Linked DNA regions of Homo sapiens: region 2 is linked to region 1. A link means that fine-mapping ties the variant in region 1 to the expression of a gene that starts in the linked region. Tissue or cell type: whole blood. Region 1 holds a variant in brackets; the other region holds the start of a gene. All regions are shown on one strand. Distances are between the middles of the regions.

Region 1 (8,096 bases):
GACTACAGGCGCCCACCACCACAGTTGGCTAATTTTTTGTATATTTAGTGGAGATGGGGTTTCACCATGTTAGCCAGGATGGTCTTGATTTCCTGACCTCGTGATCCACCCACCTCAGCCTCCCAAAGTGCTGGGATGACAGGCGTGAGCCACCGCGCCGGGCCCAATAGTGATGTTTTTACTGCTCTGGGCCTGATCGCATGCACCGTTGTCTGTGCTGTGACTTCCGTCGTTGTCTGTGCTGTGACTTCCGTTGTTGTCTGTGCTGTGACTTCCGTTGTTGTCTGTGTTGCGACTTCTGTGGGATATTCGTTGGAGAAGGAGCCACACAGCTGTGTGGGACCCGGCACTCCTTCATCACCATCATCCAGGGCCACGGACACCCCCTCTCACAAGTCGCTGGGATATGAAATTAGGGAATAAATGGGAATTTTCAGTGCGATGCAGCTGGCGCTAGGATCCTCCTCAGTGTGACGTCTGAGACCTTTTCCCAGCTGGAGCCCTGTCATTCATTCATTCATTCATCCCATGCCAGGCTGGGCGGCTGCCAGAGGCACAATCCGGAACCGCCCCTTGCTAATGGGCGGACCAGTGAAAGCAAAGCGGGCTCACTGTGCAGACCAATGATTGACAGTTCCAGGGTGTGATGGACACAGGCGGCTGCCAGGAAGGAGCCCCTTCAGAAGCAGTGGGCGGGGCGGGGTGGGGAAGGCCGTGGGGAGGAGTGACTTCCAGATGAGGCTCACAGGACTGTACCCGGAGGGAGGGGGCAGCAAGGACCCTGTGGGCAGCCGGGGGCACGGCACAGGCTGTGGCTGTAGGTGTGGGTGGTGCCCAGGCATTGACAGAGGGGAGCTCACTGGACGGGGCAGCGTGGAGGTGAGGGTCGGGTGAGGGCCCCTCGGGAGCCCCTGGCCATGTTAGTTGCACATTTCATGACTCTTTAAGGAGTTAGTGAGGCCTGGGTGTGACCTATTTCCCGTTCCAATTAAACAGGTCATTAGTCCGTGTCGTGCTAAAGCAGATCACTCGCAAGGAATGGAAAACCCTTGAAATACGTTTTTTAAATCGGTGAAAGTGAGAAACTGATGCCTCTGTGGGAAAAGACCAGACTCCAGGGTCTGCACCCTCAGAGTGATGAGCTGCGTCTGTTAGGGGTGACCTGAGGTCCCTGCTTTGAACCAGCTTGTTGAAACCGGAAGCCATTTCTCATCTTCTGTAAGAGCCTGCAGCCCCTGTCAGATGCCAGCCATTCCCCAGGTCTTGCTGACACTGTCATTAGGATTCCTATGAGGGCCAGTGGGGAGACAGCTCAGTCTCGGCCCTGCTTCCGACCCCACCACCACCCCCAAATGCATACTGCTGGCCTTTCCTGGGTTTAATTTTATTTTGCAGTGGTAGAGGTTGTTTTGCTAAAATTATTTCAAAATCTGCCTTGTGGAAAAACGCCCACGTCAGGGTGACCATCTGTGGTAACCGAGAATTCCTTGGAGGCAGCGTCTTCACCGCCTGGCTAAGCGGATGGCACAAGCTGCCAGCCAGACCTCTGTCTGTCCCTGCCCAGAGGCCCCAGCTGCCCCTTCCTCCAGGCACCTCCCTGATCTCTGGAGTCCAGGTTTTGTTCCCAAGGTCCTACCTTTGTATCTAAATGCTGTGTCCTCTCCCCGGACGATCTCCTCCAGGCACTGGCTCTCAGGGGCCAGCTCCCCATGGGCGATGATGTCTCTGATACAGGAACTTATGGGTACCTTGCAAGTTTGCACAGAAAGTGGAGCCCGTCTGTTCCTTCTGGGGTGTGCGAGCGGGGCCTCGGGGAGCAGGTGCAGGACAGGGCACAGGAGGAACAGGCACGGCTGGTGGTGTGCAGTGAACAGCAGTGGTCACACCAGGTGGTGGCTCCCGTGGGACTTTTGAGGCCGGCCCAGCCCTGAGCAGGTGGGGTCTGCAGAGGCCTCGTGGGTTGGAGGAGACTTATTCAGAGGGAGTTTTGGTCTTGCTAGAAATTGCATGAGATGAAAGATGACATTTTAATTCTATCATTGAGGCATAGTCTTTCCAACACACCCCCTGAGGTGTGAGGGAGGCTGTCCCTATATGATGTGGTCCCCGCTCCTTCAGGCTGGGGCTCCTGGCCAGTTCATCTTTCGTCCTGTGTCTGACTTTCTCTATCATTTCTAAAATGACTAAGACAATTTATTTTGTTAAAAAAAAAAAAAAAAAAAGGCGTTAAGATGATTCTACTTTGTAGAGGGATCCCAAGGGAGCGTCTCCTCTGGGACTGGCCCTGTCCCCCATCTTGTTTTCCCTCTAAACGACATGTGAGTTCCCAACTCTTGATTTTAGTTCTGACAACTGGAGACTTTATTCCCATACCTTTTTAAAACTTTTTAAAAGGTTTAACTTCAAGGAGATACCATTCCTTTTGTGTATTTGGTTACTAAAGCTGTCTTGCATCTCAAATGTGATTTAAGAAATCAAGCAAAATGCACTGGCCACGTCCTCTCAGTAGGGGGAGGCCAGCGGGCATCTCCCCTCCTCGCCCCTTCTCTGGTGGTCTCACTGATGTCCCCCGGCCCCCAGCCCTCCTTCCTTTCTTTCCCTTGACTTTGTCCTCAGACTCCAGGGACAACCCCTGGTGCGAGACATCCTGTTGCTGATTTACTTGTTCTCTCATTTGTTTCTGTGTTTGTTCCATTTCTTTCGTTCATTCATTCATTCATTCATACTCAGCTGCGGAGACCATCAGCCAGTCTGCGTTCGGCCTGTGTCTGCCACTGGCTGCAGGGCCCGGGGCAAAGGTCTTCAAGTGCCCTGGGCTTCAGTTCCCCTTCCTGGAGAATGAGGGTGGGAGAGCACCTCCCCTGGGGGTTTGCGAAGATGACATGAGCCCGTGCATCCTGGGTCTGGACCGCATCTGATACTTAGCAGGTACTTAGCAGCAGGTACTGAGTAGACACAGTGCTCCACAGCAAAGATGTGTGGCAGAGGCGTAGTGGATGCGTGATCGAGACGCACAGTAGACACGCAAGGATACACGGCAGAGATACGTGGTGGGTATATAATGGATACAGCGGGCGTGGTGGATTTATAACAGATATGTAGCAGATATGTGATAGGAGCCAGGCATGGTAATGACAAGTCAGGAATGTCACAGAGGACTGTGTCTTCTGGGGGTCCTGGGGCCTTTTCACGAGGAAGGATTGCAGGTGGGGCTTTGGAAAAATTGTCCAATTTCCATCCCCTGTCTCCTTTCCCCGGTCACCGCTCCTACCCAGTAGCAGGTGGAGAAGGTGACTTCCATACTGGGGGCCAGGATCAGGAGCAGCCACATGCCAGAGCGGGTAGGCAGCCCCTGGTGCCTGCCTGGCCCTGCCCCGACCTCCACACCAGTTCAGCCCTGTGTCCTGCCCAGGATGGATGGGTGGGTAATTTATTGATTCATTCATTTCCAGGGTCTCGTGTGGGCTTTGTGAAGCCTAGTACACGTTTTTTATTGCGTTTTTTTTTTTGTTTGTTTTGTTTTGTTTTGTTTTTGAGATGAAGTCTCACTGTGCTGCCCAGGCTGGAGTGCAGTGGTGCAATCTTGGCTCACTGCAAGCCCCGTCTCCCAAGTTCACACCATTCTCCTGCCTCAGCCTCCCGAGTAGCTGGGAGTACAGGCGCCCACCACCACGTCCC[G/A]CTAATTTTTTGTATTTTTAGTAGAGATGGGGTTTCACTGTGTTAGCCGGGATGGTCTCGATCTCCTGACCTCGTGATCCGCCCGCCTTGGCCTCCCAAAGTGCTAGGATTACAGGTGTGAGCCACCGTGCCCGGCCCTCGTTTTTGTTTGTTTTACTTTGTTATGAGTAATGATAGATTTCTAGAAACTTCGTGTATTTTTTTCTCCACTTTATTTCAACTTTGTAGAAAGAGATCTAAAAATGCAAGTCTCCTCCCCCAACCCCCAACTCTCCTGCGTCACGGATTGGTTCAGAACCAGGAGACACAGGGCCCAGAAACCTAGGGGCTGGAGGGGCCTTACCCTTTGGACTCTTGACTGTTTTTATATTCTGGCCCCTCCCCCCGTCTGTCTCTCTCTCAAGAGACAGGGTCTTGCTCTGTCGCCCAGGCTGGAGTACAGTGGTACAATCACGGCTCACTGCAGCTGGGCTCAAGCAAGCCTCCCACCTCAGCCTCCCAACTAGCTGGGACTTCAGGCGCGCACCACCACGCTTGGCTAATTTTTTATTTTTAGTAGAGTTGGGGGTCTTGATTTGTTACCCAGGCTGGTCTGGAATGCCCCAAGTGATTCTCCCACTTCGCCCGCCCAAAGTACTGGGAGCCACCACGCCGGGCTAGACTGTGGGGTTTTTGGGGGGCAAGAATTGTACTCATATCTCTGTTTCCACAGTGGGTCTTACACTGTGGACAAACAGCAGCTGATGTTCTCACCCGGCCTTGTTCTAAGAGGACTCCAAAAAGCAAGTCGTAGCCCCAGTGACTGGGAAAGGCTTCCCCGGGAGAGCGGCCGACACAGCTGCCGCAGTAGTAAGGGTTTATTTATCAAGACTGATTTATTTATCAGTTCAAGACACAGTTACACAGAGTGTGGGGGATGGTTCATCAGCAGCTGGCACGTCCAGTGGCGCGTGTGCCTCGGGAAGGCCTGGGAGGGGGACACAGGTGCTCCGCAGGGAAAGCTGCCCCCACCCCAGCCCAAAGAAGCCCTCCAAGCTCCATCAGTCATGCAGTCATGTACTTTTCCTCATCAGCACAAACCCCGCTTCCTTGAAGAGAAGCGTGAGGCTGGGCACGGTGGCGCGTGTCTGTAGGCCTAGCTACGAGGGAGGATCGCTTGAGCCCAGGAGGTCGAGGCTGCAGGGCTATGATTGCAACACTGCACTCTGGCCTGGGCAACAGAGAAAGAGAGAGAGGACTGTCTAGAAGGGAAAACAGGGATAGCAAAGTAGATGGGAAGGAAGGGCCTCTGGGGCGGCGGGTGAGTGCTGGCCGCTCCCCTCTCCACAAGCTGCTGTGGTCTCTGGGGGCTGCACCTGAGGCGGCAGTGGGAGGAGAGGGGTGAAGGGCAACGCGCCCCCGTTTAAACACCTCCTGGCCTGGACGCCAGCTGTTCACTTGTAATCACTGGTCACCCTGAAGAGATGGGATGGACCCCTGCCCAACATTTGGCTCAGGTGTCCACACAGATGACAGCACCGCACGCAGACGGGAGGGAGCTTCTCACCACATAATGAGGTTTTCTGGGGAGAGCAGGGGAGGGGGGTCTTCCAGGATGGTCCAGAAAGGTCTTGAGCGCGCCTGTAAGGAGACTGTCTCGGTTTCCGTGGCGGCTCTGGGGCAAGGCGGGGTGAGCAGGGGCTGAGGCTTGCAGGGTTTGAACTTTCCCCAGGGCCCTCATCACCTCACTGGGATGTGGGCGGGAGGGGAGCGGGTCGTCTCAAACACCTCCAGCAGTCGAACATCAAAAAGGGGGTCCAACTCTTGGTTGCGATTTCTTTGGCTGAAGCCTGGACTCCTAGCCCCACGGGCTGAGGGAAGGTTACGGCTGGTGGTTGGATAGACGCCAGTGCTTGCCCCAGAGCTGCAGGGGAAGAAGGTGGCCTGAACCTCAGGGCCTCTGTGTCCAGTTCAGGGGCCAGTACAGCAGCATCGGTCTGCGAGGGGTATGTGTTCTAGAGGAGTGAGGGGACAGACAGGGGAGCCCCAGAGGCATCCAGTGGCGCGAATGGTGGGAAGGGCCCTAAGAGGGGAGGCTGGGAGGGGACAATCCCAGGTGGCAGGGGATGGCCGCGATGAGGCCCTGGGGTGGAGCCCAGGCAGGGAGCATCCAGGGGAAGCCAGTGTGGGTGGGGACTGGGAGGAGAGAGGGAGGCTGGGCCTGCCCTGGCGAGGGGTGGTCAGAACATCGCTCGGTGCCAGACAGGCAGGACGCAGCGGGCTGGCCTGCGGGGCTCACTGCTGCCCCCCGGGGCCGAGCACGAAAGGGAGAGTTGGAGGGCGCTTCCTCGCCGGGTGTTGCGGTGTGAGCGGGGACTGGTGAGTGTGTGCTGTCTTCAGAGAGAGAAGAGCAGTTTTCAGGGTGAGTAGCCTTTATTCTTCACACCTCATTACACAGCACCCAGGCCTTTTATTCAGGAGGGCGCGGCCGGCCTCACCCCGACAGCCACCCTGGCTTGTTGACCTTGATCTGTGACAGCTCCCCTGTGAGTTCAGACTTCTCAAGGACGCTTGCATAGCCAACATTGTTGAGAACGAGTAACCCCTTATCACAGCACACGTCTGTCGTGCCATGAAGCAATTTCCCATCCCTGTGGCTTTGAAGGCATAAGTCACTGCGTCACGGCCATGCTGTTCCTTCCAAACCTGCTCGTCAGGAGACAGCTCTTGCGCTGTGTACCGGCACTGCCGCCCAGCAGGTGACCCCAGCAGCTGGTTTGTCCCTGCCTGGGGGTGAGGGCCTGCAGGGTGTTTGTAGACGCAACTCTTGAAAGGCCCTGAGGTTGGGGCTTGGTCATGAGGGTGCCCGGGGCCCATCCGGGAGTAGAAGTAAGTGCACTAGGCATTTGGCCAAGGGTCACGTTAGGCCTTATTTATTTATTTTTTGAGACAGTCTCACTCTTTTGCCCAGGCTGGAGTGCAGTGGCGTGATCTCAGCTCACTGCAACCTTCGCCTCCCGGGTTCAAGCGATTCTCTTGCCTCGGCCTCCCGAGTAGCTGGGATTACAGGCACCTGCCACCATGCGCAGCTAATTTTTGTATTTTTAGTAGAGACGGGGTTTCACCATGTTGGCCAGGCCGGTCTCAAACTCCTGACCTCAAGTGGTCCACCCACCTCAGCCTCCCAAAGTGCTGGGATTACAGGCGTGAGCTGCCACTCCTGGCCAGGTCTTTTTTCAAATAAATGTCTAAGCAAAATGAATTTGGGGTGAAGTAGTCACAGAGCTGTCAGGAGGAGCAGGGTGGCTGCGTGCCCCTGGGAGCTGCTGTGGGTGATGACCAGGTGATGCCGGGAAGGTCACTTTCAGACACATAGTTGTCATCGTCGGATGAGAATTATTCTCAGGTCTCAGGTGGGAGGGGCTGCCCACCAGGCCTGGATGAGGCCCCACCCCCCCACACACACATGCTGGGACCACGAGTGGCACCCCCTGAGGATGAGGGGGCTCCTGCGTTTGTGCCCTGTGTGGGAGGTGCCACCTCATTTGCATGTGGCCCTTCCACGTCTCCTGGCCATGCCAGACAGGTCCTCAGGATTGTTGGGAGATGAGGGCCTCGCCCAGGACTTCGATGGGGTGTCCCCCCAGCCCCCTGTGGCTGATGGAGCAGCCTGACATTTTGTGGACACAAAGCCCCCTAGAGCCAGGGAAGGACAGGGCCGGACCCAGAGCCAGGGAAGGGAGGTGGAGCTCCAGCCAAGGCATCCAAACATCAAAAGGCAGAACTGAGCGGCTTGGTACTTGAAAAGTTTTTATTAGGAAAAATGCCAAACTGACAGAAGTAGAGAGAATTACATAGTGAGGCCTCGTGCACACCCTGCCTGGCTCCTGGCAACCTGCACTCCAGCCGATACCTGTGACTCTCAGCAAGCCCCTCTAGTGGGCGAGGACCTCCACACGTGTCGCCAGGCCAGGCGACTCTCAGCAAGCCCCTCCAGTGGGCGAGGACCTCCACACGTGTCACCAGGCCAGGTAACTCTCAGCAAGCCCCTCTGGTGGGCGAGGACCTCCACACGTGTCACCAGGCCAGGTAACTCTCAGCAAGCCCCTCCAGTGGGCGAGGACCTCCACACGTGTCACCAGGCCAGGTAACTCTCAGCAAGCCCCTCTGGTGGGCGAGGACCTCCACGTGTGTCACCAGGCCAGGTAACTCTCAGCAAGCCCCTCCGGTGGGCGAGGACCTCCATGCGTGTCACCAGGCCAGGTAACTCTCAGCAAGCCCCTCTGGTGGGCGAGGACCTCCACACGTGTCACCAGGCCAGGTGACTCTTCAGCAGGCCCCTCTGGTGGGCGAGGACCTCCACACGTGTCACCAGGCCAGGCGACTCTTCAGCAAGCCCCTCCACACGTGTCACCAGGCCAGGTGACTCTCAGCAAGCC
Region 2 (8,096 bases), 91 kb after region 1:
AGGCTGCCAACCTGCCACTCTGGGAGGCCCCACGCGGCCCCTGCACCTCTCAGGAGGGCGCTGGCGCTGGGATGGTGGCCGGCCAGGCAGGGGTGGCAGGAGAAAACCCATCCGAGTCCTGCAGGTCAGCGCCCTGGGCATCCAGTGGGGCCGGGAGGGGTGTCTGAGCGCAGCCACCTTCTATCCCCGGCCTCATGTGGCCCCATCAGCCCAACTGGAGCGGCTGGAAATGACCATCACCAGGCCTGGCCAAGGTGTGGCCCTGGAAGCCAGGACAGTTGACTTCCGGCCATGACTCCCGGAGAGTGCCGGAGCTGGCGTGCTCAGCAGAGCTGCCGGGGACGATGTCCCGGGGCTGAGTGGGCGGCTTCAGCCTAGACTTGGGCCTAGATCTTGCTGGAGGCCAAGTGGTCAGTGTCCCATCAGAGTGACCATCCCTCACACGCCACTGCTGGGGGACACACCCCCACTGAGCGGCCAAGTCCACAGGACACGTGTCCCTGTGTCCACCTGTCAGCCACACCGCCCCTCGCTCCCCTACAGCCTCTGCCCTCAGACCAGTCCACGGCGCGCCGTTTTACCCTTGGGCTTTGCTGTGTCCCTTCCTTTGGCTCCTGTGCCCCGTCTGTGTGGCCACTGCAACCCTCAAGTCCCCCTCTCCAGACCATAGCTGGACCCCCACTCCCGGGGCTGGCTCCAGCAGCCATCAGCTGCCTTCTCACTCTGGCAGAGCCCACCCAGTGCCTTCTGAAGCCCCCGAGGGTCACTCAGTCTGAGACTTTCCGGCTTCTGCCCATCCTGGGAACCAGCCCCTCCCTCCAGAAGCTTTCTCTAAGGTTGCCAGAAGGTGCTAAGATCTGAACCGAGGTCATCTTGTCCCGGGGTTTCCAGGCAGCGTCCCTTGTTTGGGGGCCCTCTGAGATGCCTTCAGACCCCCGCCTGTGGCGGAAGAGCTTTGTCCTGGCCTGATCTGCCCTGTCCGTGACGCTTCTGCTCAGTAGCTGAGCACGCCCTGTGGTGTGGACAGGCCAGCCCGGCTGCAGGACAGTGGGGGCTCAGTCCAGAAGCCTCTGGTGGCTTCTGCGTGTGGGCAGGGGAGCAGGGCTGCAGGGTGGGCTGGCACCTGGCAGCGTGAGGGGCCTCAGGGCTGTTAAAATCCCAACGACCGGCCGGGCGCGGTGGCTCACGCCTGTAATCCCAGCACTTTGGGAGGCCGAGACGGGCGGATCACCTGAGATCAGTTCAAGACCAGCCTGACCAACATGGTGAAACCCTGTCTCTACTAAAAATACAAAAATTAGCCAGGTGTGGTGACGCCTGTAATCCCAGCTACTCAGGAGACTGAGGCAGGAGAATCGCTTGAACCCGGGAGGCAGATGTTGCAGTGAGCCGAGATCATGCCACTGCACTCCAGCCTGGGCGACAGAGCGAGACACCGTCTCAAAAAAAAAAAAAAATCCCAGTGACCAACCCAGGGCCTCGCCACATCAACAGAGACAAAACGCAGCTCTGGCTCTCAACATCCTCACCCCTCACCAGGTGCCCAGCTTCCCATCCACCCACGTGACCCGCAGGTGTCTGAAAATGCACAAAATGTCCAAATAGGACCACAAGAAGATCTTAAAGACACAAAGAACATTCTACATAGTTTGTCAAATCCAGCATTTGACGGTCCTCTGGGTGACCCGGAGAACACCAAGGCTGTGAGAAATGGGAGGCCTCCTGGCAGCTCCACTCCCCAGACCCGCCTCTGCCAGGGCTCCAGGCTCAGCAGGCGCCTGTGCGGGACAGGGCGACGGTTCAAGACCAAGTCCGGCTGTTAGACCAGACCCTCCAATCCAGGCGGCCTCCCTGCTGGGGTCCTGTGCGGTCAGGAGTCCCAGGGCATCCCAGGGTGGCTGTGCAAACCCTTGTTCCCAAAGATATGGGGCTTGTCCCCCAGCTAGCCTGCCCATGCGGTGGCCACAGCCTCGGGTGAGTTCCGGTTCCAAAGTACCGGCTCTCCCTTACGATCAAGTGTTCGAATGTGCTTGAAGCATTCCAGACACACCAAGGCCTGGACCTGACTTCATTGACGCCTACTTAGGAAAAATTGAGGCAGTCTGCCAAGCTTTCAGCAACTGCTTAAAAAGCTCAAAATGGCAAGTTTTTCCTCGTGAACGTCCTTGTCTTCAGAAGTCTTTTTTTAGACTATCTGGAAAAGCAGGCGATGCAAAGACAAAAGCCCCTCCCCGGGGGGCGGGGGGCAGCACCCTGACAGCAACAAGGATCTCAGAGCTTCAGCCAAGAGCATGGATTTCTCCCCAGGGCTCCCAACAGTACCCTCTGTCCGTGATTCAGGGTCTTACTCTGTCACCCAGGCTGGAGTGCAGTGGTGCAATCATACTTCACTACAGCCTCCAATTCCTGGCTCAAGGGAATCCTCCCACTTCAGCCTCCAGAGTAGCTAGGACCACAGGCACGCGCCACCACGCCCAGGCATGTAAAGATGGGATCTTGCCATGTTGCCCAGGCTGGTCTCAAACTCCTGGGCTCCAGCAACCCACCTGCCTCAGCCTCTCAAAGGGCTGGGATTACAGGCGTGAGCCACCGTGCCCGGCCTTTTCTTTTGTTGTTGTTGTTGTTGGCTGCCAACTTTGGACTCCGGTGCCTTCGCATTCCCGAGCTGTTTTTGCTTCTGGAAGACCAGGGGCATCAGGCATGACTGAAGGACCTGGTCTCCATAAGCTCTGAAACCTGCCGCCCATTAACTCAACCAAAAGTTACGAACCAGCATCATTCACACCACCCCAGCCCCAGGACCTGCTCCGGAGGCCAAGGGCCCAGAGGTCGCCAGACACAAGGCCAGGCACTGGGCAGTTTGGGTTATCTTGTTAGCAAAACTGGGTTCCATTCCCCTTTACTTAAAAAATACATAAAAATATACGTTGGGTTTCAAAAATAAGAAAAAGCATCTCCAGACAAAAAAGACGATCTTCATTTTTAAAACCCATGACGCACTCTCGGGAAGGTGTTCCTGTGCTCTGGGCCTGGGGACGCTGGTGCCACCAGATTCCAGGATGGCCAGGTGGACCCGGGGCCAGTGCTCCCAGCCTTCCTTCTGTGCTGTTCTGTGGGCCCCCAGCCTGCCCTGCCCACAGAGCACGGCAAGCAGGTGGACCCCAGACCCGTGACAGAGAGCCACCTGGACATGCCAGGCCACAGCACTGGGCCACCTTTCCAGTGTGAAACAGGGCTTTAAAAGCCAGCGCTGAGCTCGGCCACCTCTTGACCTTCTGAACGGCTGTGGTTTCCAAACACGGATGGATAACCGGGCCGGGCGCAGGGGTGGCCTACTCACCTGGGGGCGAACTCCTTCTGGCACATGGGGCAGCTGCGCAGGGCCGCGGCACCCTCCACAGACGGCTGCTGCTCCACCCTGGGGGCCCTGCAGGGATCAGGTGCCGGGCGCTGGGGCAGGGACCTGGCGGGGGATTCCAGGTGCCCTCCTGCCCCGTGAAGCAGCCGGTAGGAACGGCCCGGGCCCCACAGGTCCGGCGGAAAGGGTGTCCAGGAAAAGGTCTTGGGTCCGACAGTGAAGACTTCAGTGGGCTCCGGGCCGCACCTGGGCTCCTGCAACACAGAGTTGTTGGGCCTTGCCCAGCGATGGCTCCCGCCCTGGAAACCCCTTCATCGCTAAGATGGGCCCAGTGGGCACACCTGTCCTGGGAAGGCGGGCAGTGAAGGCACCTCGTGATCCAGGATCAGCTCCGGGCTCACCGTGCGCAGTAGCTCGGCCCAGAGCCGCTCCCGCTCATCACCCCCCAGGAGAAACCAGGGGCGGCCGCCAGAAGGCCTGGGGCAGACAGAGAGGGCAGACAGGGGGTACTCAGTAGCGGAAACGCTATGGTGGGGAGACCCGGGAGGGCCTGGGGCAGAGAGAGCGGGGAGATGGGGGGTACTAGAGGGAAATTCGATGGTGCGGGAGGTGGCCGGCAGGGTTGGGGGAAGGGCTGCTGGGGCAGACAGTGCGGAGATGAGGGGTACTGGGGGTGGGGGAGCGGGGTGGGTGGGTGGAAATATGGGGTCCTCAGCGGGATGAGGCGATGGTTGGGGAGATTGCGGAGGGCCTGGGGAAGGTAGAGGGTTAGATGGGGGGTGCTCAGGGGAGACGCGATGATGGGAGAGGCGCGGGAGGGCCTGGGGCGGCGCGGGGGAAGCTCGGCGTGGGGTGGGGGCTCAAGGCGGGCGCTGAATGGCGGCGCGGGGTGGGGCGACGGGCGTGGGGGCCGGGCCCGGGGGCAGGGAGCCCTCCCCAGGGGGAGAATAGAGCGGGAGGCCCGCGGGGGCGCCGGGAAGCACGTGGGAGCGGGAAAACCGGCCGCGCCCCCGCCCGGCTCCCGGCCTCACCCGCCCGCCGGGCGCGGCCTCCGGCGGCTCAACCCCAGCCGCGGCCTCCGCGCCGCCTCCATCCAAGCCCGCGCCGGGCGGAAGTGAGCGCAAGCCCCGCCCCCGCCCCTCCAGGCCCCGCCCCCGCCCCGGCCCCGCCTCCAGACCTCTGCAGCGAGGCCGCCCCCCTCCGAGACAGTCGGAACCCCAGGGGCCCTGATCCCAGCCTGTAGGGAAACTGAGGCCAGGGTTCCTTCGTCCTGCACCGCACAGGGGGGCCTGGCGTGAGGGTGGGGGGCCCAGGTGGGGGAGCCCCGCCCGTGTCCCCTTTCCCGTCCGGGCAGCCCCCGGGCCGGAGCCCCCTCCGTTACCCCGATGGCTGCCCGGCCCGCCCCGGCACTGCCTCCTCCCGGCTGCACCCAACAGCTCCCGCCCCCGTTTCCGGCTCTGCGGAGCCGCCTCTCCTCCCAGGACCATTCCAGGAGTAAATAAAGCTTGAAATCCGCCGTCGCCACCACCGTTTCTTTACAAAAGGCGGGGAACTCAAGCTCCTTAACCAAGAAACCAGAGGCGAAGTGACAAAGTCCAGGTGGCTCACTTGGGCCTCAGGGGCCTGGGCCAGGGCCCTGGGGGCAGCTGAGGGGCTTTCCTGCCTGGACCCCGGGCTCTGCGACCTCAAAGTCGGCCACGTGGTGGCAGCAGCCGCCCAGGCACCCTGGTGCCACACTTGGCTGTGCCCAGTGCCCCATGGGCCCAGGCCACTTGCCTCTCCCTTGGCCCTGCTGGGCCCTGGAGTGGCTGCCACCCTCACGGAAGGAGTGGGGTCTACAGAGATCAGGGTCAGGGGCCCTCGCCAGACGCCACTCAGGGCTCTGGGACTCCTTGGCAGTTTCTGCCCTGCCCAGCCCCAGCAGCTTTGGGGCTATGCTGGGCACCCCTCCTGCAGGGCTCCCTGGCTGTTCCTACCCCTCACCTGGCCCCTCCCAGCCCCCAGTCGTCTGTGCCCTCCCTCCAGAACTCAGCTGTGGAGCCCGGCCCTGAACCCAGGCCACCCGAGTGGCCCACCGTCCTTCAAGGGGCCCCAGCCTGGAGGCCATAGGTTGGTGTTCAGGGAAAGGGTCAGCAGCAGGGCCTGGACTGGGAGGTCCCCCTCTCCCTGCATGAGTGGTTTTCTTCCGCACACCTTCCTGCTCTAGATGCTGGAGGCCCCCAGCAGAACAAGATGGAGGCACCAACCCCCAGGCCCTTCGACTTGAGTGAGCAGATGGAGATGCAGCGCTGAGTGCTGCCCGGGCAGGGGGAGGGGGCCTGGGGGAGCTGCTGCAGGCCGTGTGGTCTCAGGGGGCCCTGTGGGAGGTAGCCTGTGGCTGGGCCTGCTCTCAGGCGAGAGAAGCCCAGCCGTGGGGTCTCTGCAGCCCCACGTCCACCACATGGCAGGTGCCAGCTGACCAAGCGCTCTCAGACAGCCAGTGTCCAGGGCTCCCCGACAGTCCTGGCTGCCCTGGCTTCAGCTCCGAGCTTCTGGGTCTTTCCTGGAAATGTCACCATGGTCTGCAGGAGGGCCTTGGGTACTTCCAGGAAGACTGGTCCCAGCCTCCCAAGACAGGAGAAAAGGCCAGGCCCAGCAGCCCATGCCTGCAATTCTAGGACTTGGGGAGGTCCAGGCAGGCAGATTGCTTGAGCCCAGGAGTTTGAGACCAGCCTGGGCAACATGGCAAGACCTTGTCTCTATAAATAAAAAATTAGCTGGGCATGGTGGCATGTGCCTGTGGTCCCACCTACTTGGGTGGCTAAGGTGGGAGGATCACCTGAGCCCAGGTAGGTGGGGGCTGCAGTGAGGCAAGATCGTGCCACTGCACTCCAGACCCCAACTCAAAAAAAAAAAAAAATAGGCCAGGTGTGGTGGCTCAAGCCTGCAATCCCAGCACTTTGGGAGGCCAAGTCGGGAGGATCACTTGAGGCCAGGAGTTTGAGACCAGCCTGGCCAACATGCAGAAACCCCATCTCTACTAAAAATACAAAAATTAGCCGGGCATGGTGGTGCACACCTTTAATCCCAACTACTTGGGTGGCTGAGGCACGAAAACCACCTGAGCCTAGGAGGCATAGGTTGTGGTGAGCCAAGATCGCACCACTGCACAACAGCTTGGGCATCACAGCAAGACTCTGTCTCGAAAAACAAAAAAAGACAGAGGAGAAAAGCCCTTGGTGACAAGTGTTTGCTCAGCTCTCTGTGCCGTGCTGGGGGTGGTGGGGGGTGTTCTTGCTCCTTCCTCTCCCTTCCCCACTCTGGCTCCCAACCCCAGGGTTCTGCTGTTGGACCCGGGGGTGGCTCCTGCCTCCTCCTCCTCTATGGCCCCCACATGGTCCAGTGCCCTCCTGCCATGGGACCGGCCGGCCTCTGGATGGGCTCCGAGCCCCCTGGGACCCATCTCCTTCCCTGCCTGGGTCCCTTGGGCAGAGCCTGGGAAACTCAGGCCCCTGCCCTGTCCTGGAGGACCATGTGAGGGACACCTGTGTGTGGCTGCTGCCCCAGAACAGGGGCCTTTCTGGGCGGGAGGACCCAGCCCCCACCCCTGGAAAGCCAAACACTAGAGCTTTGCTGGGGTCTTCAGCATCCTTCCAGCCCCTCCCGGCTCCCCCATGCAGGTGCCCTGGCCACTGGGCCCAAGAGGGGCAGAGCCGAGCAGAAGCAGGGCGGGGTCTCAAGTGACCCAGACCCGGGACACCTGCGCTGCCCGGCTGGCGCAGGCTGCTTGGGAAGCTCTCGCTGCGGGTGCCCCAAGGGTAGGAGGCACGGGCCTGCAGGGGACCTCAGGGCTGGCTGAGCCTGGCTCCAGCCCGCATCACTGAAGCTGGGGGGCCCCCATCCCCTTGAGTCTTAGCCACCCCAGTGGGCCTCATTTACCCTTGGCCACCAGGGAAGAGGAGCCAGGGCCCCAGGCCAGTGCCATGGGGCAGAAGGCAGGGCCTCTGGGCCTGGTGCTTTGGGGACGCAGAGGCAGCACAACGTGTCACAGTTGTCCTCCTGGGGGCTCTTCCCCTCCAGTTTATCTGCTGCTCTGGATTAATCTCCCCTCCTCCCATGTCACCACTGGGGAGGGGGCAGTGGGGCAGGCCCCTGTGACCTACAGCCAGAGATAAGTCCACAGAGAAAGGCACTGGGGTGACCTCTGCTCTGGGCACGTGGCGGGTGCCTCCACTTGTCAGGAAGCCTGACCCCCAATCCCCTCCCGCCTGACAGCTTCCCGACAGCTGCCTGCCAGCCGAGGGCCTGGAAGGGGACCGGCCACTCAAGACTCTCAAGACAAGGAAGCATGTTCACCTCCAACAAACATACCTTGTCCTGCCTGTCCTCAAGTTATCAGCATGACACAGCGGTGCTGGTGATGGTGATGGTGGAGGTTTCAAAGTTGAACCTGATGAAAACGCTCCACTTCTTCGGAGCCATCTGCTGCTGTGGTGACGGAGTTTTGCTTTATTGGAAAATAATTTCTGGTTGGGACTGACACGTGCACAGTGGAAATGAGTTTTTTCTAAGCCAAAATTCATGTTTACAAAAGAACGTTTCAGCTGTGGGAGTTTGCATCCCAGGCAGAGCAGAAGGTGATCGAGTGGGTGGGGGCATCAGAGCCACCCATCTCCTACTCCCGCACCTGCAGACCGGTGGGCTAGGAGGCCCCTTACCCTCTGTGGCAAAAAAGGACACATTTATGGATGATGAATCA

The links. PIP is the estimated chance that this variant, and not a neighbour inherited with it, causes the effect.
Region 2: it holds the start of FAAP20, and the variant in region 1 is fine-mapped to the expression of FAAP20 in whole blood (TOPMed, PIP above 0.99).

What each region holds. Positions count from the first base shown.
Region 1 is chr1:2,098,817-2,106,912 of GRCh38, forward strand. The region is part of intron 4 of PRKCZ (protein kinase C zeta); the gene reads left to right. Among named protein-coding and RNA genes, the nearest start is that of PRKCZ, 52 kb to the left of the region's middle. The variant G/A (reference allele first, on the strand shown) is at 3,679.
Region 2 is chr1:2,190,299-2,198,394 of GRCh38, forward strand. FAAP20 (FA core complex associated protein 20) reads right to left here and starts at 4,474. Exons shown (of 4, transcript NM_182533.4): 1 at 4,390-4,474; 2 at 3,700-3,835; 3 at 3,341-3,612. The coding sequence starts at 4,451. It overlaps LOC112268219 (a long non-coding RNA gene), which reads left to right. Exons shown (of 1, transcript NR_168005.1): 1 at 1-2,160. RefSeq lists silencers at 4,229-4,318, 4,329-4,808 and an enhancer at 5,442-6,108.